Linked DNA regions of Homo sapiens. The protein of the gene in region 1 purifies or fractionates together with the protein of each later gene. This does not show direct contact. Each region holds a gene or a part of one and is shown in the gene's direction. Other genes may lie near its edges. The genes, in order: PLOD2, DPCD, SLC9A9, PYGL, PRMT3, TXNDC5 and CTSB.

Region 1 (3,500 bases):
AACTCAATTGAAATGGGAAAAAGACACCATGTATATCAGCTTACAATGATACTAAGTTTGTTTGTCAATACTACTGCTAATACTAATAATACCATTTTTACTACTCCTGCTAAGACCTCACCTTTAACAAGTGCTTATTAAGTGCCAGGTATTGTTGTAAGTACATGTATTAACACAATTATTTCTCATAATAAATAGAATGTTTAGCGGGTGAAATGTTAGAATGATTGTTTTTATTTTGTTAAGTAAGATACATGGGAAATGTAGTATGCTTTATTAACCCACCCTATATATAATATCTATCTATATATATATATCACTAGAATTTGTAAATTTGAGAATTTAGTTCTTACTTCAAAAATCTAAGACCTCTCTGTAGCAACCTGTATATACAGCCCAACTGTATAGCTGTGTTATAGATACTCAGTATCTAAGTTAACTATCTATATACATCGTAGGTAATTTTCCAAAGCATATGAATGAGGTTTTGATCATTTGGCAAGGAAAAGCAGTTGTGACACCCTAGAGATATGAAATAGTGTATGATTTGTAACTCTTAAAACCTAGTTTAATTCAGTACTATTTTCTTGAATTTGCATTGTTTTCTCTTAATTTGATTGAAATGCTATAGTGTGTAATGCCCATATGCTTTTTAATAATTAGATATTTTCATTTTATGACTATAATTTATATATTTATTAATTATTCTCTTAGTGAACTATTTAATGAATTTACACTATGTATTTGACATATATCCCTCTTAATATTAAACATTTTAAATCTTCTAAAAGAAAAAAAATTCCCGGCCGGGTGTGGTGGCTCACGCCTGTAATCCCAGCACTTTGGGAGGCCAAGGTGGGTGGATCACGAGGTCAGGAGATCGAGATCATCCTGGCTAACACAGTGAAACGCCATCTCTACTAAAAATACAAAAAATTAGCCGGGCGTGGTAGCGGGCACCTGTAGTCCCAGCTACTCGGGAAGCTGAGGCAGGAGAATGGTGTGAACCCAGGAGGTGGAGCTGGCAGTGAGCCAAGATTGCGCCACTGCACTCTAGCCTGGGCGACACAGCGAGACTCCGTCTCAAAAAAAAAAAAAAAAAAAAAAGAAAAAGACTTACCTGCCATCTGGGGCCCTTGCCCCTTAAAGAGTAAAACTCAGGCTGTGTCTCCATGGAATTCTGTTAGTTAATCAAAGGTTTAGGTTTATGTAATACCTATGGTTCTTGCTTCTGTATCTAGACATGTGGTTTCTATAGTCTATTGACATATGCCAGGAATGTTGCAAGATTTAGTAGATTGGACTGAAGAGTAGAGAAAGAGATTTGACACATCTTGGGCATGTGGCTTTCTACCTTCTCATCAGCTCTCTTTTTTCCTCTTCTCTCCCTATCTCTATTTGCTCCCTTGCTCTAAATTTTACTCCTTAAATTGTATAATAATATGAATCATTCCTCAGCTGCCATCCTTACATTTTTATTCACAAAAACATTGAGGTATACAGCAGATGAATTTTGGTTTCCCAAATTTGTTGGTTTAAACCTTTTCAGGAGGCAGCTGGGATTATAAATTACAAGTTCTTTTTAAATTAAATGTTTGATATTCATATTGAATTATTTCCCAAATTAATGTATGTAGATTCTAATTCATGTTATTATTTCCAGTATTGTAGGTATTCAAAACAAAACAAAACATGTGTTTCTGATTAATAGTTTAGTAGGAATTCGGAAGAATAAACCAAAATTTATTATTTTGCATGATGTGTATTTATTTTTATTTATTTATTTTTTTGAGATGGAGTCTTGCTCTGTCGCCCAGGCTGGAGTGCAGTGGCATGATCTTGGCTCACTGCAACCTCCGCCTCCCGGGTTCAAGCGATTCTCCTGTGTCAGCCTCTTGATTAGCTGGGATTATAGGTGCGTGCCACCATGCCTGGCTAACTTTTTTTGGTATTATTAGTAGAGATGGGATTTCACCATGTTGGTCAGGCTGGTCTCAAACTCCTGACCTTGTGATCCGCCCGCCTCGGCTTCCCAAAGTGCTGGGATTACAGGCATGAGCCACTGCGCCGGGCCCGATGTGTGTTTATTTATTTCACTTTTGTGCATGTAATAGAAAGGGCCCGGCTGGTCTTCACAAGATAGAGGTGAAATAGGTTTTCTTTTTTCATATAAAGAATAGTTGTTCCATAAATTTGCTTTCTAAAATAGTTAAAGGAAAGTTCAGTGTTGCCAGGACTAGCTTACTGTAATCACAAGTCATTTTTTAAAGTCATGGAAAACTGGAAACATACTTAAGTAATTTGAGACTTAATTACAGGAAAGCTTTGCCTGTTTACAAACATCTCAGTTCATCTTCATTCATTTTTTACAAATTCAACAAATATTCATTGAATATCTTAAATGCACCAGGGGCTGTTGTTCACCCAGTGACAATGAAAATATTTGGTTTCATTTAATATAGGTTCCGAAATACTTTAGTTAAACTTAAATATAATTAAATAACTAAAGTAGTTTCCCTCTGTTGGATGTAAGCAAGGCATTTTTAAAAGTCATTTTTATGTATTCATTAGCATTTTCAATTACTTTTTCCTTCTTTGTTACTCTTTTTAAGAAATATGATTGAAAATTAGCAATATACTTACTTAAGAAAAGATGTTGGGAAAGAAGATCCTTATTTTATTTTTATTAACTACAGGTTTGTTGAATGAGCTTTCTTGTGTTATATGTCATACTAAGCCCAAAATACATAATTCTGTGGTAATTTAAAAATAAATAATTATATAGGTTTCTCTCTCTCACACACACTCTCTCTGTCTTTAGAAAGATCATTGCTCCTCTTGTAACTCGTCATGGAAAGCTGTGGTCCAATTTCTGGGGAGCATTGAGTCCTGATGGATACTATGCACGATCTGAAGATTATGTGGATATTGTTCAAGGGAATAGAGTGTAAGTTACTTGGTTTAATATTTTAATGTGAAATACCATAATCTAAAGATGTAGTCTTGTTAGTATTACTTGAAATTTTTTTTGCATTCATCTCTTTTCTTTATAGTTAATGGGAATTTGAGAACCCAAGACCACTTGGAATCCTGAAATACTAGTATAAAACTAATATCTTAAAAAAATGTTTTTAAAGTCCCAAATCTTCAAAGGAACAAGCTCATTGCTGTGGGGAATACTAAGAGATAATATATGTTTACCATACTCACATTATGGTTGATAGAAGAGTAATACTCTTTATTTAAAAGCTTGGAAAGGGGATTTAGTTTACTAACTTTTTAATGGTTATAATTAAGGGTTGTTTTGATAGGTTTTAAAATTTATAATTAAGCCAACAGTAACACTAACAGCCAGAACATTCCAGTATTCCTGATTGCATGAGTTTTTTTGTGTGAAATAGCTATTATTCTGCTTTAAATACAAGTTTTTTTTACCAATATTAGATTTTCACTTCTAGAGATTGAAAAGAATATATTTGCTGAAAAGTGTGTGCATGATT
Region 2 (3,500 bases), on another chromosome or scaffold:
TTTTGGTCACAGAAGTTTTTAAACAAATATTTTATCAGCCAGGATTTTGTTAAGTTCTTTTGTTAGTAGCATCACAAAATGATATTGTTAAGATTCCACCCTATCCCCAGACTGAAAAACAACTCAGTATTGCATATGTGGTTAAGCCTTGTCAAACCTGCAGATTTACCCCTGGGTGTGTAGGAGGGGTGTGGGGAGTAGGGGGGAGGTTACTCCCTTCCACCAAGAATCATGGCTATTGATATCTTGGGCTGGATAATGAGACTCCATTTTACTTTTGTTTTTTTAAGAAATAATTACATTCATTGTGGAAATATGAAAAATAAAGAAGTCAAATATAATATTACCACCCAGATAATCATAATTTACTTTTTTTTTTGAGACAAGTTTCACTCTTGTTGCCCAAACTGGAGTGCAATGGCGCAATCTCGGCGCACTGCAACCTTTGCCTGCTGGGTTCAAGCGATTCTCCTATCTCAGTCTCCTGAGTAGCTGGGATTATAGGCGCCCGCCACCAAGCCCGGCTAATTTTTTTTTTAATTTTTAGTAGAGACAGGGTTTCACCATGTTAACCAGGCTGGTCTCAAACTCCAGACCTTAGGTGATCCGCCTGCATCGGCTTCCCAAAGGGCTGAGATTACAGGCGTGAGCCGCCTCGCCCAGCCCATAATTTATATTTTTATACATAAACTTCTATATTATTTCATGCATACACTCACAGTTATTTTTCTTTTACAAAAATATACTAATATACTTAATAATTTATATATACATTTATTTCTAGAATAAATATACTATTAAAACAAAGTATAGATAAGTATCGAATAATCATTGGGTAAGGGAAGATGCTCTGAGTGCAACTTCTAAGGCAGTAACCACAAAGAAAGAAAATATATAGTTGGCTTTATAAAAACTAAACACCTGTGTTGGGTACCTGTAATCCCAGCTACTGGGGAAACTGAGGCAGGAAGCTCACTTGAGGCCAGAAGTTTGAGGCTGTAGTGTGCTATAATCATGCCTGTGAATAGCCACTGCACTCCAGCCTAGGGAACATAGCCAGACACTCTTAAAAAACAAAAACACTTGTTTGGGAAAACCCACTTTAAACAAAGTTAAGGGCCAGGCGTGGTGGCTCACACCTGTATTCTCAACACTTTGAGAGGCCAAGGCAGGAGGATCACTTGAGCTCAGGAGTTTGAGATCAGTCTGGGTAACATAGTAAGACCCCATCTCTACAAAGAAATTTAAAAATTAGCTGGGCATGGTGGTGTGCAACCATGGTCCCAGCTACTCGGGAGTCTGAGGTGGAGGATCACTTGAGCCCAGGAGGCAGAGGTTGCAGTGAGCCGAGATCACACCACTGCACTCCAGCCTTGGCAACAGAGCAAGACACTCTAAAAAAAAGCCTCAGTTGGCCGGGCGTGGTGGCTCATGCCTGTAATCCCAGCCCTTTGGGAGGCTGAGATGGGCAGATCACGAGCTCAGGAGATTGAAACCATCCTAGCCAAAATGGTGAAGCCCTGTGTCTACTAAAAATACAAAAATTAGCTGGGTGTGGTAGCATTCACCTGTAGTCCCAGCTACTCAGGAGGCTGAGGCAGGAGAATTGCTTAAACCCGGGAGGCAGAGGTTGCAGTGAGCCGAGATCACACCACTGCACTCCAGCCTGGCGACAGAGCGAGACTCTGTCAAAAAAAAAAACCCTCACTTTTCCTCATCTATGAAATACAGGTAATGAAAACACATAGGATTATTGTGAGAATTAAATTTGATAAGACATGTGAAATGCCTGGATTTAGTAAGCGCTGCATCCTGCCTGGACTCAAGGCTGGATGCCAAGGGGAGAAGATGGTCAGGCAAGACCCCCTCAGCTCCTCCCAGGCAGTACCTTGGATCCCGCTCCTGACAGGAGAGCCCTTTCTAATGCCTGTGAGCCATCCAAATGATTAAGGGTGGTATTACCTAGGGCTCTGCTAGAGGCCCTGCAAATTTAGGGGTGAGTTTATGCAGAATACAGATTAGGAATGGCTCAAGGGAACTGTATCCCAGAGAAGTGAATTGGACAGGAAAAAGGCACCTTGGGGCTCTTATTCATCAAGCATACATAGGGTACTTGTCTACTGGATGTTAGTGCTCTGTTACTAGTTTTACTGAGGAGTCTGCCTGTATCTACTTCCCTACCTATAAAAAGAAAGGGGAAATTACATAGCCACTCTTAAGCAAATGCTCCAGGGGTAGAGGAATTGGGCTAGGAGACTCCCTTAGTTTCTTCTTCTTCTTTTTTTTTAGACAGAGTCTCACTCTGTTGCCCAGGCTGGAGTGCAGTGGCACAATCTCAGCTCACTGAAACCTCCGCCTCCCGGGTTCAAGCAATTCTCCTGCCTCAGACTCCTGAGTAGCTGGGACTACAGGCACCTACCACCATGCCCAGCTAACTTTTTTGTATTTTTAGTAGAGATGGGGTTTCACCATGTTGGCCAGGCTGGTCTTGAACTCCTGGCCTCCCTTAGTTTCTTCTGTTCTTTCAACGGATAGTGCATCAGTGTTTATTCATCCTTTCAATCAGTATTTAGTTGAGCTCCTAGTATATGCCAGGAGCCACACTTGGTCTTTAGGAAACCATAGCATGGGGATAAAACCCCTCCTATCTAGTAGAAGAGATAGGCAGTAATCAAAGAGTCACATAAAAAGATGTAAAATCATAACCAAATTAAGTGCCATGAAGAAAATACATGGGGACTTAACATTGTGTTACTGTGTGATAGGAATGGCCTGGAGATATGCAGAAGAAGGCAGGGCACTGGCATGGCTAGAGGGAGTGCTTGGTCAGGAAACCCAATTCAATGTCCTGAACACATAGAGAGATAAATACGATGTCATTCATGGGAAGACAAATGCTTTTAAAAGTATCATGGTATGTAGTAAATGCTCCACTATGGATACGAGTAAAACATTAGGGAGGCACACATGAGGATGTGATTAATCCTACCAAAGTGGCTGGAGGTGATAGTGGAGGAAGACTTCCCAGTGGAAGTGACATTTGAGCTGGATTTTGAAGGGCAAAGAAGAGTTCCACAGATAGGAAAAAATATGGAGCTGTTGCTGGTAGAGGAAACAGCAGGGCAAAGATGTTCAAGGAAAGCTTCAGAAAGGGAGAGAGTCTCAGGACACGTTTTAAAGTAATGGTGGGTGGTGGTTGGCAAGGAGTTTGGGGAGGTCCTGGCTGGGTTCCTCAGTACTCCCAAGGCTGGCACTGTTTCCCAGGTAGGCCCCTTGATCTGCAAGGGACAGGGCAAGGGGAGACTTTGAGGTAAGGCATTCTCTGTTTTGTGCATAGGGAGAAGGAAGGTTCACTATTTATTCCCAGACGGCAAGGAAATGGCTGAAGAATATGACGAGAAGACGAGTGAACTACTTGGTAAGTGACAGAGGCTCCCAGTGGGCCTTTAGTAATACTTGGGGCTGACATAAGCACAATGAACACTCCTAGCCTTAGGCTT
Region 3 (3,374 bases), 2.8 Mb from region 1:
AGGTGTGTTCAGGGCACAGAAGCCTAAGGCAGTGGTTCTCAAACAGTAGTCTCCAAACCAGCAGCCTCACTTGGGAACTTGCTAGAAATGCACACTCTCAGGCCCCGCCTCAGAAACCCTGAGCTTGAACGATGATCTGTATTTTAACAAGCCCTCCATGTGATCCTGGGACAGGCGAAAGTTGGAAACCACTGCCCTAAAAATCCCCCGGCAAGGGCCCATTCTACAAGTAGTTTAGTATGGCCTTCCCAAAGCCAGTGGAGGAAGAGTTGGGATCTTAATTCTTTCAAGGGAACCTCTGTATGGAAAAAATTATTATTAGCCAGATCCAGTTAGCTTCTGGCATTATCCACTATGGTGACTTCCAGCCATTTCTAGACTTGTGATACTCTTCCCAAGAAATATGCTGAGAAGACACACTTTTAAGGTAAAATGTAACAGGAGGCCAGGCGTGGTGGCTGACGCCTGTAATCCCAGCACTTTGGGAGACCAAAGTGAATGGATCACTTGCAGTCAGGAGTTCAAGACCAGCCTGACCAACATGGCAAAACCCCGTCTCTACTAAAAATACAAAAATTAGCCAGATGTGATGGTGGCACATGCCTGTAATCCCAGCTACTCGCGAGGCTGAAGCAGGGGAATCACTTGAACCCCAGAGACCAGAGGTTGAAGTAAGCTGAGATCGCAACACTGCACTCTAGGCTGGATGACAGAGTGAGACTCTGTCTCAAAAAAAAAAAAAAAAAAAAAGTAGCAATAACTGTGTTTCAAGGATTTTTTGATAGGCAGGAATGTTACAAAACCAACATGAGAATCTTCCCCTATTCTGAGATCATAGGATTATGCTAACTCCTAATTCCTGTCAACCCTAGTTAATACCAGTGGTGGAAACATCCTTAACCCAAAGAGGAAATGAAAGTACCATGCTCTTTAACACCTCTTACCTCAGACTTAGAGACCCCTTATGGCTGTACAGCATCAGATATTCAATGCTGACTCAGGGAAAGGCTGTACCATGCCTGCAGCAGAAACATCAGCCAAGGCCAGACAGGGCAGTTACAGAAAGGAAAACATGCATTCTGTTTAAAAAAAAAAAAAAATTGTAGGACTGCTATTGTTTTCTGCCTTCATCATGAAGTGACACCTCTCTCTCTTTTCCCAACCAGGAACAGCTAAAAGAGGATGATGTGGAATGCATTGTAAACCAGGATGAACTAGCCATAAATTACCAGGAGCAAGCCTCCTCACCCTGCAGTCCTCCTGCAAGGCTAGGTCTGGACCAGAAAGCTTCACCCCAGACGCCAGGCAAGGAAAACATTTATGAGGGAGACCTCGGCCTGGGAGGCTATGAACTCAAGCTTGAGCAAACTTTGGGTCAATCCCAGTTGAATTAATTGGCATGAAGAGTACAGATGTAATCACAAGTAATGCAAGACTCACTGAGGAATACAAGCCAAGCTGATGAGGCAGTACAGGGGAGAGGCTGGAAAACATATTAAGAGCATAAATTGGAGAGAATCAAAGCCTTGTCACATGGATCCTCTGGTGCCTGAAGAAATGAGATTTTATTATCCCTCTCTATTATGCAAATGAATTTAGTTTTTTGACAGCAGCCATTCTGATTACTGGATTGGCTGGGGTGGGGATGGAGGTATCAGGAGTCTAGCTGCTGGAGGATGGGACAGCTGTGCTGGGTCTTCAGGGCATTTCTGCTGCGAATGCGGCTCTCCAGGCCCTTCACTTCTATTCTGGATTTTATTCCCTCCATTAAGGAGAGTTTAAAAATAAAAGAAAGCTTCTGAGAGTAAACATTTTGCTCCTAAGCTGAAGGGAATGCCCAGCTATTTAGTAAGTGATAAGTTTCTTATTTTGAGGACTTGACTCCCATTTGCTCTCAGTGACCCCAGGGCAGAGCCCAGAGAAGTGTTCCGTACCCACTGCTGATGGTTTCCCAGAGCCCACACTGAGTTGAAGAACCTATTGTTCTTCTTGGCATCCTTCTTATGCTACTTCTCCCATCGCTCAAAGGGGTTGCCTATGGCTGGGTGTGCCCTGCCCTAAATGCAGCACCACTTTCAAGCTTAGTAGGACCATTCCAAGAAAACCAGGTTTCTTCTCCCCATACCACGTTGTGCCTGAAGAACAAGCCTTCCCGTCCTTGCCTGCATGTGAGTCACTTCTTGGCTGTGCAGCAGGTCCCCCCCTCCCCGCGATATGCTGGAGGGTAGGATTCTGCAGCCTGTGTTGCTCTCTACCTGGCAGCAGACTGTGCAGGAGCCCCAACCTGTCCTCCAATTCCAGCATTCACAGCTGATGAGCAGTGCAGGAGCAGGGCGAGAGGAACAGAGCCAATGATGTGTGGGTTACACTGAGGAGCCAAGGACAGGGCCTCAGGTCTCCCCCTTACAAGGCGTGGCTCATGGCCTGCATTCCAGAGACCAACATGATAGCTTTTAATTCAGCTGCATGACCTGTGCCTTTTAAGCCATAAAGATACCTCAAGCCTAGCACCTCTTGAAATCCAGATGTTCATATTAGACTCGAAAAAATAGGCTCCAGGCCTAGGTGCCCAGGCTATGATGAGTCTGCTTTTGAAGGAGGTAGGGAATGACATCTTCCTTGGACCCAAAGCTTAAAAGTAATGTATGCTTTGCTGACCACTGTTTGTTAGGCCTTAAACAACATTCACTGTGGTGGTATCAGGCACACTGCTATGTGCATCAATTATTTTTTTGCTTTCCAAACAGAATCTCTGGGGCACAAGTTTTACACTCAAGCTAAGTATAACTTTGTCATTTCAGGTAAATATGACAAGTGGTGGAGCATGAAGTTTTCTAATTTGACTTAATCCTAATAAATTTTTGTTACAAAGTATGATTGTGTTTGGCTAATGCTTTATTTAAAGTCATTTTCTCTTTCCAGGTGATTTGGTGGTTCTAAGCTCTTGTACTCAGAGTGCCAGCTGAAGCAGGCACTGAAAGCTAATGTATGGGACATGCAGGGATCCTGTGGGCCAGAAACAGCTAACAGACTAGCAAGACAAGTCACTGAAGGAATGAAGAGAGCAGGGATGGACTGGGGAGGCGTCCCAGAGAAGGGAAACCTGAGTCAAGCAGAGGGGCACAGATGCCGCCTTTCCCACTAGGGATGACCAGGGTTCACAAAAGCTACAAAAATAGGGGAAGGAGATAGATAGATACTAGAGGAGAAAGAAAGAAAAGAAAGGCAAAAAGATAAAAGGTTCCTCTTTTTTTCTGTCCCTATCATGCTAAAAGGAAGGGAGGCGAACTTGGCGTTTTCTTTGTGTGGAGAAAGACACCAAGGAAAGAAAAGATCCACCCAAAAAAGGCAAACCTTAGTAGGGGGCAGGAGTG
Region 4 (3,500 bases), on another chromosome or scaffold:
AGGAGAATGGCATGAACCCAGGAGGCGGAGCTTGCAGTGAGCCGAGATCGTGCCACTGTACTCCAGCCTGGGCGACAGAGCGAGACTCCATCTCAAAAAAAATGAATAAATAAATAAAAATAAATAAATAAAAATAATTTTTAAAAACTGCTGAAACTACATTTAAGATACTAGCAAAAGTGTTCTTCTCACATAGACTTTATAGACTCTTCTTTGAGTCAAACTATCCCATGTTCTGTGTGATACGTGAACTACACTGTGGTAGGTGACAGAGAGAAATACTGACAGAAACTGCCCATTTGGACTTGATTACCATCCCCAAATTGAAGTCATCTTTTCCTTTGAATTGAAAGAAAATTGGAGAAGACTATGTGAAAGACCTGAGCCAGCTGACGAAGCTCCACAGCTTCCTGGGTGATGATGTCTTCCTCCGGGAACTCGCCAAGGTGAAGCAGGTGAGCCTTCCAGGTGTGGGTCCCCTCCTGGGCACTCACTGTGAGAGTTTATCCTGTAGTTTTTGTTTATTTTTTGAGACAGAGTCTCGCTCTGTTGCCCAGGCTGGAGTGCAGTGGCACGATCTCGGCTCACTGCAACCTCCGCCTCCCAGGTTCAAGCGATTATCCCGCCTCAGCCTCCCAAGCAGCTGGGATGACAGGCGCCCGCCACCACGCCCGGCTAATTTTTGTATTTTTAGTAGAGACAGGGTTACACTATGTTGGCTAGGCTGGTCTCGAACTCCTGACCTCAAGTGATCCACCCGCCTCGGCCTCTCAAAGTGCTGAGATTACAGCCATGAGCCACCACACCCGGCCTATCCTGTAGTTTTTAAAAACAGACCACCCAGCCGGGCGCGGTGGCTCATCCCTGTAATCCTAGCACTTGGGCAGCCAAGGAGGGTGAATCACCTGAGGTCAGGCATTCAAGACCACTCTGGCCAACATGATGAAACCCCGTCTCTACTAAAAATACAAAAATTAGCCAGGCAGTAGTGGTGTATACCTGTAATCCCTGATAGGATAATCGCTTGAATGTGGGAGGTGGAGGCTGCGGTGATCTGAGATCATGCCACTGCACTCCAGCCTGGGCAAAAGAGTGAGACTCCGTCTCAAAAAAAAGAAAAACCAGACCACCCAATTCTTCTAGGCCAAAAGAGCTCTGGCACCATGCACTGTCTTAACAGGAGAATAAGCTGAAGTTTTCTCAGTTCCTGGAGACGGAGTACAAAGTGAAGATCAACCCATCCTCCATGTTTGATGTCCAGGTGAAGAGGATACATGAGTACAAGCGACAGCTCTTGAACTGTCTGCATGTGATCACGATGTACAACCGTGAGTCAGCCCTGTAGCCAACAAGCCCCCTTGCAGGTGGAAGCAGCAGACTCAGCATAGGTCTCACTGCCCTGACCGTCAGCTGTCTTCCATTTCATCCACTTCTCCATCTTTTTCAGGCATTAAGAAAGACCCTAAGAAGTTATTCGTGCCAAGGACAGTTATCATTGGTGGTAAAGTAAGTTGAATCTATTCAATGGGGACTTGAGGGCTCTAATCTCTTGCCATTCTTCTACTTCATCATGGCTGCCTTCTGTCAATGCGTTTGACCTTCTTCCCCAAAGGCTGCCCCAGGATATCACATGGCCAAAATGATCATAAAGCTGATCACTTCAGTGGCAGATGTGGTGAACAATGACCCTATGGTTGGAAGCAAGTTGAAAGTCATCTTCTTGGAGAACTACAGAGTATCTCTTGCTGAAAAAGGTACTACCCTCATTGCAAAATATGCAGGGGCCAGGGCAAACTCTAGAGATTACATGGTATGAAAGATGGGGCAGCCAACCTCCAGGAGCTAGTAACTTAGGATAGAAGGTGTCACTCTTGTGCAGAATAAGGGCCTACGGTAAGAGGTTTTAAAGTGACCCAAGTCACAATGAAATTGATGTCCTGGAGTCAGTATCACAGGATTATACTTGCAAGTACATTTTCTTCCAAGCCAGTGAGAGCTATGTGCTGGGGGAGGCAGCCCTGGGGTTTCAGCATCATTCAGAACCCGCTCTATAAAACAGAGGAAAGGTCTTCAGTTCCCAGCCCCAGTTTTGCAAGAGAACACCAAATCCCCAGTCTTCAGATATTTCTTTGGTCACCCTGTGAGAAGAAGGGCTGTCACTTGCTCTTGTATCAATAATAAATGAGGGCAGATGTGAGGCTGCCAAAGCACGAGGCTTAGATGTGCCTCACATGGGCACTTCAGCATCAAGCATGATGCTCCCACATGGGGACAGCCAGATGGGCAAGAAGCCAGTGTCCCTTTCTCTTCCACTGGGACCTTTGGTTATTTGGGTCACAAGCTCACAGAGCACCATCCACATGCAAATGCCCAACTGTGTATTCACCCACTTCCCAAACTGAAAAGGTAGAAAGGGAGCTTTTTCTTTTTGTGGTGTTTTTAGGTCCTCTGATGTTACTGTTTAAGAACTCTCTGCATAAAGGGAGAAGAGCCAGGTTCCTAGGGATGCAAAAGAAGATACATCTAATCCACAAATAAGCTCTCACAGTAAAGCAGAAAAGTGGTCCTGACCTTTGTAGTCAAAGGAAGTGCTTCAGGCAGCTCTAATTTGCGTGCAAATCAGCCTGAAAGGTCAGAGGCTAGATGTCTAGCCCCAGGCACACCTCAATTACGTGTGGCTTATTTCCCTGCAGGAAAAGTGGAAGGAAGGAGGTGAGAAGTAGAAGGAATGCAGACAATCCAGTCTCCTCAGGTTGCCAAAGAGGAGTCCTGGAGGGACACTCTGAATGTTATGGATCAAGAGAGAGAAGTTCAGCCTGGGCAGCATAGGGAGACCCCATACATACAAAAATTTTAAAAAATTAGCTGGACATGGTGGTGCTCGCTTGTAATTGCAGCTACTTGGGAGGCTGGGGCAGGAAGATTGCTTGAGCCTAGGAGGTCAAGGCTGCAGAGAGCTGTAATCGCACCACTGCACTCCAGCCTGGGTGACAGAGAGAGACCCTGTACCAAAAAAGAGAAAGAAAAAAAGAGAAATTTCAATATATTTTATAAAGTAGAAGAAATAAAAATAAAACTGTAACAAAAATTGGAAGGAATAAAAGGAAGAAGAGAAATGTAGTATCAATGTTTGTCGCAGTCAATAGATACTCTTCAAAGTTTATAGCTCGAGAAAGAAATACAAGCATATAAAATGGACAAAAGTGGTTGCCTGAGTCAAGGGGAAAGAGTGTGATCTGCCTTCTAGACCATTTGAATGTTTATCTTAATGTGCATGTATTACTTTAATTATCAAAACAGCCCAACTTAATAAATGCTTCAATACAATACAAGCAGATCTAGACAGACAAAATTACTAATTTTAACTTACCTTTCTTGCAGTCATTCCAGCCACAGATCTGTCAGAGCAGATTTCCACTGCAGGCACCGAAGCCTCGGGGACAGGCAATATGAAGTTCATGCTAAATGGGGCCCTAACTATCGGGACCATGGATGGGGCC
Region 5 (3,500 bases), on another chromosome or scaffold:
AATTATCTAATGATTAACCTGAACTCCATAAAGTTTGTAGAACTATCTGACTGGTAATCTTTATTATGTCCACTATTGGTGAACATGTCATATGAGATAGTTTTATATCATTTTCTTAATATAGAGGAATAGGTCAGATATAAAAGCTAAAGCCAAATATACACATTAACATATATACGTACACAAAAATTGTTATATTTTGTTGAATGGATTGCACCTTGGGCCACATTATTTCTTCTATTATTTAACTCCTTAATTATGTGTTAAACTGTGAGTCTCACCTTTTTTGCAAAGATGTAGAGAAGGTATCAGTAATGGAATCTTTATATTCTGAAAATAAATATAACAGGTGGTTATGTTTTACTTGTGTTATTTCACTACCATCTTGAAAAGCATTCAGATAATTTTCCTTGAATATGGGGAATTTGTATTTTTTTAAATACGATATTCATTCAGTACTTCAATAGTTTTATGTAGATTTCCTTGGTCATTATATGGAGCCTCATTGTGTCCATGCAGATGCTAAAGCTATTCCTGACACTGTTTGGTGTTATCTTAATATTATTTAAGCAAAGAATGGTGATCAACTACAACTTAGCAATTTGTTACTTTTTAAACAGCTCTTTAAAATAAATGAAAAATTAAATGAGAAGTATTTATAATTAGAAAAGTACATAGATAAAAATTTGGAACCTACAGAATTTAGGAAATCAGCCTTTGCACAGGTAAGTAATTTTTGTGTGTTCACTGTTTCACATGGGTACATTGTTTCCCTTTTACAGCACCAGTGCATCAATGGCCAATGGCTTTGTCATGTGCCTCTACATTTTCCCAGCTATAATTTTCAGTTCCTCAAAATGCCATTCCTGAAGGTTCTGTGTATGTGTTTTCCTTAAATACCATTACATGTACATCCCTTAAGCCTGGTTCTCCATGACTTCAGCCCTGGCATTGGGTAATTCATTAATTCTTGTGAAACCTTGCCTTTAACTGCCTTCCAACCATCCCCAGTGCTCACCTCCAGCACACTTTAGACACATGCCTATTGTGTAATTGTTAGTATAGCTTTTTTCTTCACCCTGATCACAAACTCTTTGAGGGCAGGGACCATATCTTTTTTCTAGATGCCCAGAACCCACCATAGGGCCTCATATTTAGAAGTTCAGTAAAATGCTTCCATTGACCCTTTATGACCACAATAGTTTTACTCACTTTCACAAGGATTTGACACTGTGGTATGTAGTTAGTTCTCGCTTCATTCAAAAATTAATGAAACAGGGCTGGGCGCAGTGGCTTACGCCTGTAATCCCAGCACTTTGGGAGGCTGAGGTAGGTGAGCGCATCACCTGAGGTCAGGAGTTCTAGACCAGCCTGGCCAAAATGGCAAAACCTTGTCTCTACTAAAAATACAAAATTAGCAGGTCATGGTGGCGCATGCCTGTAATCCCAGCTACTTGGGAGGCTGAGGCAGGAGAAATCACTTGAACACGGGAGGCAGAGGTTGCAGTCAACTGGGATTGTACCACTGCACTCTAGCCTGGGCAACAGAGAGAGACTGTCTTAAAAAAAAAATTAATGAAACATAATGCTGCTCTAAAAAATGAATATTGGCTGGGCACAATGGCTCATTCCTGTATTCCCAGCACTTTGGGAGGCTGAGGCGGGTGGATCACCTGAGGTCAGGAGTTCGAGACCAGCCTGGCCAACATGGTGAAACCCCATCTCTACTAAAAATAAAAAATTAGCTGGGCATGGTGGCATGCGCCTGTAGTCCCAGCTATTCGGGAAGCTGAGGCAGGAAAATCTCTTGAACCCAGGAGGCGGAGGTTGCAGTGAGCCAAGCTTGCACCAGTGCACTCCAGCCTGGGAGAATGCAGTGAGCTGAGATCACACCACCGCACTCCAGCCTGGGTGACAGAGTGAGACTCCATCTTAAAAAAAAAAAAAAAAAAAAAGAATATTAACCTTAAATAAAGTTTAAAAAGTGGGAAAACATCACAATAAAAAGAAGTGCTAGTTATACATTGTTTACTTTTCTGCTACACTGTATTCCTTGAATTCTTAACAATTTTTGCCTTTGTTTTACAGGTGAAGCCTTGAAAGGAAAGGTCACAGTTCACAAGAATAAGAAAGATCCACGTTCTCTCACCGTGACCCTCACGTTGAATAATTCAACTCAAACTTATGGTCTCCAGTGAAACAGCCATAAAAGCACACTACCTTGTAGTTTTTAATGTGGGGGTAGAGTGGGTCAGCAGGAGGGAGCTGGTTTTATGTGAGCAGATGGATGGATGATGGACCCTTTCCTAATGAGCCTCCTCAATAAGAGAGAAGTTCTCATTGTGGGAATCTGACATAGTTCAGCTGAGGAAGAGAATCAGCTGATCCTCATGGTCTGCCACGTAATCATTTTCTTAGACGTTTGCTCCACCAGATTTAACCAAATGTAACTCCCACATTGAGTTTATCTATATTGAAAATCATTTACATTGGCCTATATTTGGAAGAGAGATAGTCTTTTGTTTTTAATAAGTTTCTTACTATAAATTTTAAACAAATTGGTTAGTTATTTGGATATTTTATTAAACTAGTAACACAGGTACTACACATTTTATTATGGACTCCTCTGAGGAGGAGTTTTTAATTGTATTTGCTAGAAAATCAGGATGTAATAAAGATTTGTATAAAAAAACTAAAATATGGAAAAGAGCTTCAGCCTTCATATACAAATCATATATGCAGACAGCCTAGTTGATTATCTAGCATACTTAGGGTTCTCATTTTGTAGTTTCTTCCCTCTTTGTGACTATTCCTTAGCCTTATAGATTTCTAGTACTGCCCAGGAAATCTAATTTCAATACATTTATCCTAGGTTTCATGAAAGTTTTTAAAGATTGGGATAAATATGTACTTATTTACTAACGTATTATCTTTTTCAAACCAGATTTATGTGCAAAGGTTAAACATGTAACTGTTACTAAGCAGTCTATAAAGTTGTCATTTACAATTACTGATTCAATTTGAAATGTAGAATAAAATTTTAATAAAATGTATCAACTTATAAAATATTTTAAAAATATTGATATTATAAAAGTTTTCAATAAAATATATCAAACAACATTATAAAATATTTCAACAGGGTATGGTAGCTCATACCTATAATCCCAGCATTTGGGAGGCCAAGGCAGGAAGATCACTTAAGCCCAGGAGTTTGAGAGCAGCCTAGGCAACACAGGTCTGTACAAAAAATTCTTTTAAAAAAATTAGCCAGGCATAGTGGTGCATGCCTGTAGTCCTAACTACTTGGGAAGCTGTGGTGAGCAGATTGCTTGAGTCCAGGAGTTGGAAACTACAGTAAGTCAAGATCGTGCCACTGCACTCCAGCCTGGGTAACAGAGAAAGACTCTGTCTCTAGAAAAGTTAATTAATTAAAAGTAAAAAACAGGGCCAGGCATGGTGGTTCATGCTTATAATCACAACACTTTGGGAGGCCAAGGCAG
Region 6 (3,500 bases), on another chromosome or scaffold:
AGTGAATAACAACTTAGTCCTGCCTATTTTAGTGCTGGTAGAAAATAAAAAAGAAAGCAATGACTTAGAACAAGATGTTTCATGAAAATGTTGGGCAAGCAGCAGCTTTATGAGATTTAAATGAAAGAAAAAGCTTGAAGAGCTGTGCTTGTTGGTAAATTAAGTTTATAAAATTAAGGACGGATTATAATCTTGACATCTTTGCAGTCTTACCTTTATTATATACCAACTACTCCTGTTTAAAATTCACTTCTTGCTCCCTGTTGATTTTAAAACCCTCTAAGCTTCAGCATGAGAGTAAATTCTAAGCTGGCATGTGAACTGGTCTGGGTCCCAGTCACCGACAGCCAGGCTAACCCCCCTCCCACCACCACCAAATGTCAAGCCAGGGCCCTGACTCAAGCTACCAGGTGCTGACTTTACTTGCTCGAGTTAAAATGTTGCTTCCTAAAAACCGGCATGTTTAACTGAGCTATTAATACAATAAATCTTGCCTCTAAAGTCTTTCCTTTACTCCTTTTAGCTCAGGTATGTTTTAGCATAGCTTTCAGGAACATTCTCTTCAAAAACTGCACCTTGCTGGCAGAGTTGCTACAGAATGTGGATTTTGAAAAGAATATTTGTAACGTACAAAGTGTCCAGTAGCCCCATTAGCAAGAAGGTTCATGAAGAAACTGACTGGGAAGTTGATCTGCTTTTATTCTCAGGTTGATTGTACACAGCACTATGAACTCTGCTCCGGAAACCAGGTTCGTGGCTATCCCACTCTTCTCTGGTTCCGAGATGGGAAAAAGGTACGTCTGCACTTCTTAGTACTGAGAATTCTTCATCTCTTAACCCCATCAGGCTGAGCTACTGAGTGGTTTAATGGGCACAGTGAATTGCCAATCTTGATTGTTAGGGCACTGGTTTGGAGAAATGTGTATAATGAAACAAACGTCTTTCTCTTAATTGATAAGATTTGGGTTGTGGAGATGAACCTTGAAACATTTCAGTGGCCCAGGTTATCACTAGAATAACCCACATCTTACAGTCACAGGGTAACTGTGCTCTGGTTGTAAACACAAACCTTCAGGCCTTTGAACAGAGCTAAGGCTTGCACTTGGTCCGGTTCTGCCTGCCTCCCTCCCTCCTTCCCTGGCCGATGGTCAGCAGCTCAGAGTTCCCCATCAGCACAACGGCTTGCTGGCAGGCCTCTGCCCCAGACTTCTGTGATGTGTAACCCCGTGGAGGGAAGAGGGGCCTGTACAGTTCTCTCACCAAAGCCGAGGCATTCAGTTATCCTCTCTACATTCCCGTCTAAATATGAACATGCAGACTTTGCACCACCGCTAAGACATCTGGGAGCTCTGACCCGGGCAAGCAGGGGTTGCAGGAAGGCTTAAGTGATTCAGAACACCTCAGTGGACTCACTCAGCCGCGTGCCCGTGTCTTGGCCAGGTGGATCAGTACAAGGGAAAGCGGGATTTGGAGTCACTGAGGGAGTACGTGGAGTCGCAGCTGCAGCGCACAGAGACTGGAGCGACGGAGACCGTCACGCCCTCAGAGGCCCCGGTGCTGGCAGCTGAGCCCGAGGCTGACAAGGTGGGTGCCTGCTGGAGTCGGGATCCCCATAAGTGGCCCGTGGCCCCCGGCCCCCCACCTCCCCACCCTCAGAGGCCTCCTCAAATGCTTTGGACAAAATGACAGTTTGGGGACACAGTCATCTGATGGTTGGCTCCAGTTGCGTTTTCAACACGTATTTTTCATCGACTTTCACATGCTTTCAGGGGCGAATGCAAACAAAAGCTTTCCTTTTGAAAACATGAAATGGATGTGAGACAAATCCCAAGACAATATTTGGTGTCAAAAATCTCTAGAGAATCCTTCCTTTCCGCTTCATTCATTTTAAAGAATGACTCTGCTGGGCATGTTTCTGCTATGAAATCTCGACTGCTGGCCCCGGGGCCCTGATTCTATTCCTGACCTTGCTCCGGGCATTTTCCTTTACCCGTTGTAAAGGCCCCTAGAAGACCTGTAGCCAAGAGGGCATCCGCAGCGATCAGGCCAGTGACTGTAGCTGTAACCTGCCTAGGCAGTCCTGATGCACTGAGGGGCTTCCTTCCTTCACTCAGGTAGCAGGAGGTTTCAGATTCATTTGTTCTGCTTTATGAAGCCCTTGTTATGTCACAGGCACTGTTCTAGGCCACCAGGGAATAAAAATAAGACCGGTTTCCTGCCTCTGAAGCATACAGGTCTCTGAGGCAAATGGTGAGAAGACACACAAGCCAATGGCAGGGGGCTGGGGCAGAAATGTGTGCAGGGCTTGGCTGCTAGAGAGAAGTGGGGGCAAATGGGCAAGAAGTGTCCCTAAGGAGCTGATTGACGGGATCTGTGCTGGACAGATAGGCTGGGCAGGGCTGCCACTGAGGGGCTGCACCAGGAGAGGCACAACCCGAGAATCAGCCGGCATTTCTGCAGGGCCAGAGCTGGGGCTGGGGGAACACAGTGGGAGACAGGTCAGGGTGTGGTGTAGGATCCCTGAGAGTGAGAGAGGAGCTGGAGTTGAGAGTCTGTGGGCAGCTGGCCAAGGATTAGGAACTGTATCCCATATTGACAGGGAGCCCATGGAGGCTCTGTGCAGATTGGAGTTGTAGGAAAATGACCGGCATGCACGTGTGCTGGAGGTGGGAAGCTGCTCTATTAGGCCTTTAAAGATGATGCGTTCCCTCATGCTGCAGCCGTGACTGTGCGATGGCGAGGAGGAGAAAGCCAGCATAAGGAGTCCAGCCGCTGTGCAGCGCGGAGAGGGAGGGAGGGTCCGAGGCGAGTCTGATTCCCGCATATCTGGTGGAGGATGGTACCCAGCACAGGGGCGGGGCCAGAGCTCGAGGAAAGGGATGAGCTTGGTTTTCAAGGTGTTGATCTTCAAGGCTTTCGGCTGTGTAGGTGGCAGTGTCCAGTGGCAGTTCCAACCATGAGCCTGGGGCTGCGGCAGGAGGTCTGCACTGGACGAGAGTGCCCGTGTCATCCTCTTCAGGTAGAAGTCATGCCTGAAGGCCAGGAGTTTGGATTTGGAAAAACCAGTGGGGCCACCAACCCCTCCTCCCTGGTGGGGCCACACCAGGCCTCCTCACCCCTACAACCCTGTCCCTAGTTGGGCTCTTGTAGGTCGGGGATGGCCTGAGTGTTGTTTAAAAGTTGACGTTTTGGTTGAAGAAGTAAACAGCTGATTTTGTAGTTGTCAGGACCACTTATGTTAGAGGAGTGTATGTGTCATGGTGGTTACAAAGGTCATCCCAAATTGAGTATAATTATATACCACGGATGTTTTCATCGCAGCACCATTTCTATTTATAATGCAGTTTTCCACCATGAAGTGGGTCTTTTCAGTGCGTGTGGCGTCATGTTTCTGGACATAAAGATGGTAGTGTTCCACAGTGGCCCCCTTGGCCTCCGTCACTGACATGTTACTCGATGCCAGACTCAAATGGAGCAGCCCTGGTACACTTAGCCACGTG
Region 7 (3,500 bases), on another chromosome or scaffold:
GAGGTGGAGGCTGCAGTGAGCCAAGATTGTGCCACTGTACCCCAGACTGGGTGACATGGCCCACAGACCAAGACCCTGTCTCAAAAAAAAAAAAAAAGCTTTTTTCCAGAGCCATCTTGCTGTCCTCATATATTTATTCTCCTAGATGAATTGTTGCTTAAGCAACAATGAAGTTTAAATTGTTCTTCAGATAGAACCCCTAGGTGCCAGGCAGTTTGTTAAGCACTGACACCGCAGTCCTGTGACTTTCATGACGACCTGTGACCTGTGGGAGGTAGAACACCTCACCCACCCGTGGGAGCCCCTGGAGTGACTGACAGGAACCCCTGCCTCACCCAGCTCCCCGCGCCGCGGCTCTCCCCAGCCCTGGATGCAGGCGCCCAGGAGACATGTATTGCTTTTGTTGAGCTGCTCACTTAGGAGGGTGACTCAGAGTTCAAGCTGGAAAGCACTGGCTTGTGACTCATGAGCCAGTGCAAGATCAAACGGCTGGGGCATCGAGGTGAGAGTTTTCCTTCTCAGAAGCCTCATCTCCGCAGCCGGAAGCAGAGCCCTTGGCTGACTGGAAAAACCAGAGAGGCCCCGGGAGTGGGTGGATGGCCAGCCCAGCCCCACCTCTCAGCCTCAACCTCCACCAGCCCACACCGAGCTTGTTTGTCTGTGTCCTGTCGAAACTAGGACTCCTGGATTGTAACTTTTCTTACATTTCCCTGTCCCCTGGGTCCTCCACTTAGGGTGTAATCACACAGACAGGCTCTTAACTGTTTCATATCACTCACTTGGGAAAGTGTCTCAAGCTGTTCTACAAATCCATGCAAAGGCCGTTTAAAAATAGCAGCGAAGGCCCTGGACTCGGTCTCGTCCAGCACAGCCCCTTGGCTCTCTCTCTGGGCTCTGGCCGCCTGGCCCCCGGGGACCCACACGAGGTCATGGCGTGCTTCGGGCAGGGGGGCGGGGATCCCATAGACACCTCAGCTCCTTAAGAGTTCTCCGCCTGGGCCAGGACGAGCATGGGGGTCCCCACTGATGCCCGAGACGGTGCCCCTGTGTGTGTGAGCCCTCGACCCACATAACAGAGAGGTGTCCTGATGCCCTCTGTCCTCTCCAGGTGGATCTAGGATCCGGCTTCCAACATGTGGCAGCTCTGGGCCTCCCTCTGCTGCCTGCTGGTGTTGGCCAATGCCCGGAGCAGGCCCTCTTTCCATCCCCTGTCGGATGAGCTGGTCAACTATGTCAACAAACGGAATACCACGTGGCAGGTAGGCTGTGGGGCTGCGTCCTATGTATGTCCCCTCCCAGGTCGGTCTGTGCACACTGACTCCAGGAATGGGAAGCCAGCCCTCACTGTGGCCCACAGAACATTGTCCTGGACTGTTGAAAAATGGCCCTGACCCTGAGTCATGTCGGCTCTGGACCACGCCTCCCTCCTTTGTCCCATACCCCACGTGTGTGCATGAGTGTGTGTGCATGTGTATGAATATATGGTTGTGTGCACGTGGAGGTGTGTGGGGGAGTAAGTGAGCTTCGGAAGTGTTCAAAACCAGCTAGCCCCTGTGACGCCCGCCGTGGCACAGTGGCAGTTTATCAGTCCCGCCCCTGATTCCCTTTGTCTCTGCCCAGCCCTGACCCTCGGACTGAGAACCAAGAATGAGGAGTGAGCCATGTTGAGGGCTGGAGAGGGTCTCTGATTGTCAGCAAATGGGAGCAGATCAGGGGAGACACCCACTCTGCCCGTGTGTCACTCTGGGCTGTTCCCCAGTGCCCCCCAACCCTTGGGCCCTTGAATTGGGTAGGGTCTCTGGTTTTCCCTGGGTTGGGCTTCGTGTGTGGGCAGCGTGCCCATCCACCGCCATCCCGGGAGACCCTTCAGTCAGTGGGTGACTCTCTTCCAGGCCGGGCACAACTTCTACAACGTGGACATGAGCTACTTGAAGAGGCTATGTGGTACCTTCCTGGGTGGGCCCAAGCCACCCCAGAGGTGAGTGCCTGCTCCTCTGCACCGCTGTAATGTGAGTGGCAGGCGTTGGTTTGGGGCAGTGGGAAGTGGGAGAGTGAAGGCCTCTCTGGCGTCCGCAGGGCTCATGCTGCCCAGGGCTGCCGACACCGCTTGAGGTACAGTACTTGTTTCTTTTCATTTTTATATTACTTTCTCTTTTTATTTTATTTTTTCCTTCTCAAGTTATTAGTAGAGAAGATGCTGGTGCTTTTTTTTGGTTTTTGAGAGAGTCTCACTCTGTCACCCAGGCTGGAGTGCAGTGGCACGATCTTGGCTCACTGCAAACTCTGTCTCCCGGGTTCAAGCGATTCTCATGCCACAGCCTCCTGAGTAGCTGGGGCCACAGGCTTGCACCACCGTGCACGGCTAATATTTGTATTTTTAGTAGAGACTGGGTTTCGCCATACTGGCCAGGCTCGTCTCGAACTCTTGGCCTCAGCAAGTCATCTGCCCAACTCGGCATCCCAGAGTGCTGGGATTACCGGCATGAGCCACCCCCAGTGTTTTCTATTGTGCTTCTCCAAGGTGTCTCAGCCGCAGATGTGACAGACAAGGTCTGGGTCCCCACTATGTGGGCAGACTCAATCTTGAGTAATTTAAGGGAAATCTAAGAAAAGCCAGATGAGGCCAAGTATGGTGGCTCACGCCTGTAATCCCAGCACTTTGGGATGCCAAGGCAAGCGGATCACCTGAGGTCAGGAGTTCGAGACCAGTCTGACCAACATGATGAAACCCCGTCTCTACTAAAAATAAAAAACTTTGCCAGGCGTGGTGGCGGGCGCCTGTAATCCCAGCTACTCGGGAGGCTGAGGCTAGAGAATCGCATGAACCCGGGAGGCAGAGGTTGCGGTGAGCTGAGATGATGCCACTTCCCACGTGAGGATGGGGTAGTTAAGTTGCACGACACTGCCTTCTGCACAATGGGGATGATATGAGAAATGATGAGAGGATCCTGGGCAGAGGTTGAGGCAGGAGAGCAGGGCAAGAAACACTATCTGGACTGAATAAACTTATTTAAAAATGAGTTTATAATTTGTGGATAAATTCATCTTAAAAAATCCATTACATAAGCCTAGAAAGAAGCGTACAATATCGCAAGTCAGGCCAGGTGTGGTGGATCATGCCTGTAATCCCAGCACTTTGGGAGGCCAAGGCAGGCAGATCATTTGAAGCCAGGAGTTTAAGACCAGCCTGGCCAACATGGTGAAACCCTGTCTTTACTAAAAATACAAAAATTAGCCGGGTGTGGTGGTGCATGCCTGTAATCCCAGCTACTCAGGAGGCTGAGGCACGAGAATCGATTGAACTCAGGAGGCAGAGGTTGCAGTGGGCAGAGATCTCGCCACTGCACTCCAGCCTGGATGACACAGTGAAATTCTGTCCACTCCCACCCTCCCGTCCCACCCAAAAAAAAAATCAAAAGGTGCATTGAGCAACAGAATTTCCTTTTGTTTTATGAAATTACCAAGGACACCTGTCTGCAGCCTTCTTCGGCATGTCTTGT

What was found.
Region 2: the proteins of PLOD2 (region 1) and DPCD fractionate together in Homo sapiens (co-fractionation; one large-scale study listed by BioGRID). This does not show direct contact.
Region 3: the proteins of PLOD2 (region 1) and SLC9A9 fractionate together in Homo sapiens (co-fractionation; one large-scale study listed by BioGRID). This does not show direct contact.
Region 4: the proteins of PLOD2 (region 1) and PYGL fractionate together in Homo sapiens (co-fractionation; one large-scale study listed by BioGRID). This does not show direct contact.
Region 5: the proteins of PLOD2 (region 1) and PRMT3 fractionate together in Homo sapiens (co-fractionation; one large-scale study listed by BioGRID). This does not show direct contact.
Region 6: the proteins of PLOD2 (region 1) and TXNDC5 fractionate together in Homo sapiens (co-fractionation; one large-scale study listed by BioGRID). This does not show direct contact.
Region 7: the proteins of PLOD2 (region 1) and CTSB fractionate together in Homo sapiens (co-fractionation; one large-scale study listed by BioGRID). This does not show direct contact.

Annotation. Positions count from the first base shown.
Region 1 is NC_000003.12:146,081,185-146,084,684, reverse strand, and holds part of PLOD2 (procollagen-lysine,2-oxoglutarate 5-dioxygenase 2 isoform 1 precursor), read left to right. Parts: intron 1-2,821; coding exon 2,822-2,947; intron 2,948-3,500. UniProt on the Homo sapiens protein: Forms hydroxylysine residues in -Xaa-Lys-Gly- sequences in collagens. These hydroxylysines serve as sites of attachment for carbohydrate units and are essential for the stability of the intermolecular collagen cross-links.
Region 2 is NC_000010.11:101,591,321-101,594,820, forward strand, and holds part of DPCD (protein DPCD), read left to right. Parts: intron 1-3,337; coding exon 3,338-3,418; intron 3,419-3,500. UniProt on the Homo sapiens protein: May play a role in the formation or function of ciliated cells.
Region 3 is NC_000003.12:143,264,722-143,268,095, reverse strand, and holds the end of SLC9A9 (sodium/hydrogen exchanger 9), read left to right. Parts: intron 1-1,166; coding exon 1,167-1,394; 3' UTR 1,395-2,874; downstream 2,875-3,374. UniProt on the Homo sapiens protein: Endosomal Na(+), K(+)/H(+) antiporter. Mediates the electroneutral exchange of endosomal luminal H(+) for a cytosolic Na(+) or K(+).
Region 4 is NC_000014.9:50,909,984-50,913,483, reverse strand, and holds part of PYGL (glycogen phosphorylase, liver form), read left to right. Parts: intron 1-353; coding exon 354-455; intron 456-1,180; coding exon 1,181-1,328; intron 1,329-1,447; coding exon 1,448-1,506; intron 1,507-1,612; coding exon 1,613-1,754; intron 1,755-3,381; coding exon 3,382-3,500. UniProt on the Homo sapiens protein: Allosteric enzyme that catalyzes the rate-limiting step in glycogen catabolism, the phosphorolytic cleavage of glycogen to produce glucose-1-phosphate, and plays a central role in maintaining cellular and organismal glucose homeostasis.
Region 5 is NC_000011.10:20,506,216-20,509,715, forward strand, and holds the end of PRMT3 (protein arginine N-methyltransferase 3), read left to right. Parts: intron 1-2,088; coding exon 2,089-2,198; 3' UTR 2,199-3,123; downstream 3,124-3,500. UniProt on the Homo sapiens protein: Protein-arginine N-methyltransferase that catalyzes both the monomethylation and asymmetric dimethylation of the guanidino nitrogens of arginine residues in target proteins, and therefore falls into the group of type I methyltransferases.
Region 6 is NC_000006.12:7,886,789-7,890,288, reverse strand, and holds part of TXNDC5 (thioredoxin domain-containing protein 5 isoform 1 precursor), read left to right. Parts: intron 1-707; coding exon 708-794; intron 795-1,440; coding exon 1,441-1,584; intron 1,585-3,500. UniProt on the Homo sapiens protein: Protein disulfide isomerase of the endoplasmic reticulum lumen involved in the formation of disulfide bonds in proteins. Can reduce insulin disulfide bonds.
Region 7 is NC_000008.11:11,851,088-11,854,587, reverse strand, and holds part of CTSB (cathepsin B isoform 1 preproprotein), read left to right. Parts: intron 1-1,108; 5' UTR 1,109-1,133; coding exon 1,134-1,259; intron 1,260-1,892; coding exon 1,893-1,978; intron 1,979-3,500. UniProt on the Homo sapiens protein: Thiol protease which is believed to participate in intracellular degradation and turnover of proteins. Cleaves matrix extracellular phosphoglycoprotein MEPE. Involved in the solubilization of cross-linked TG/thyroglobulin in the thyroid follicle lumen.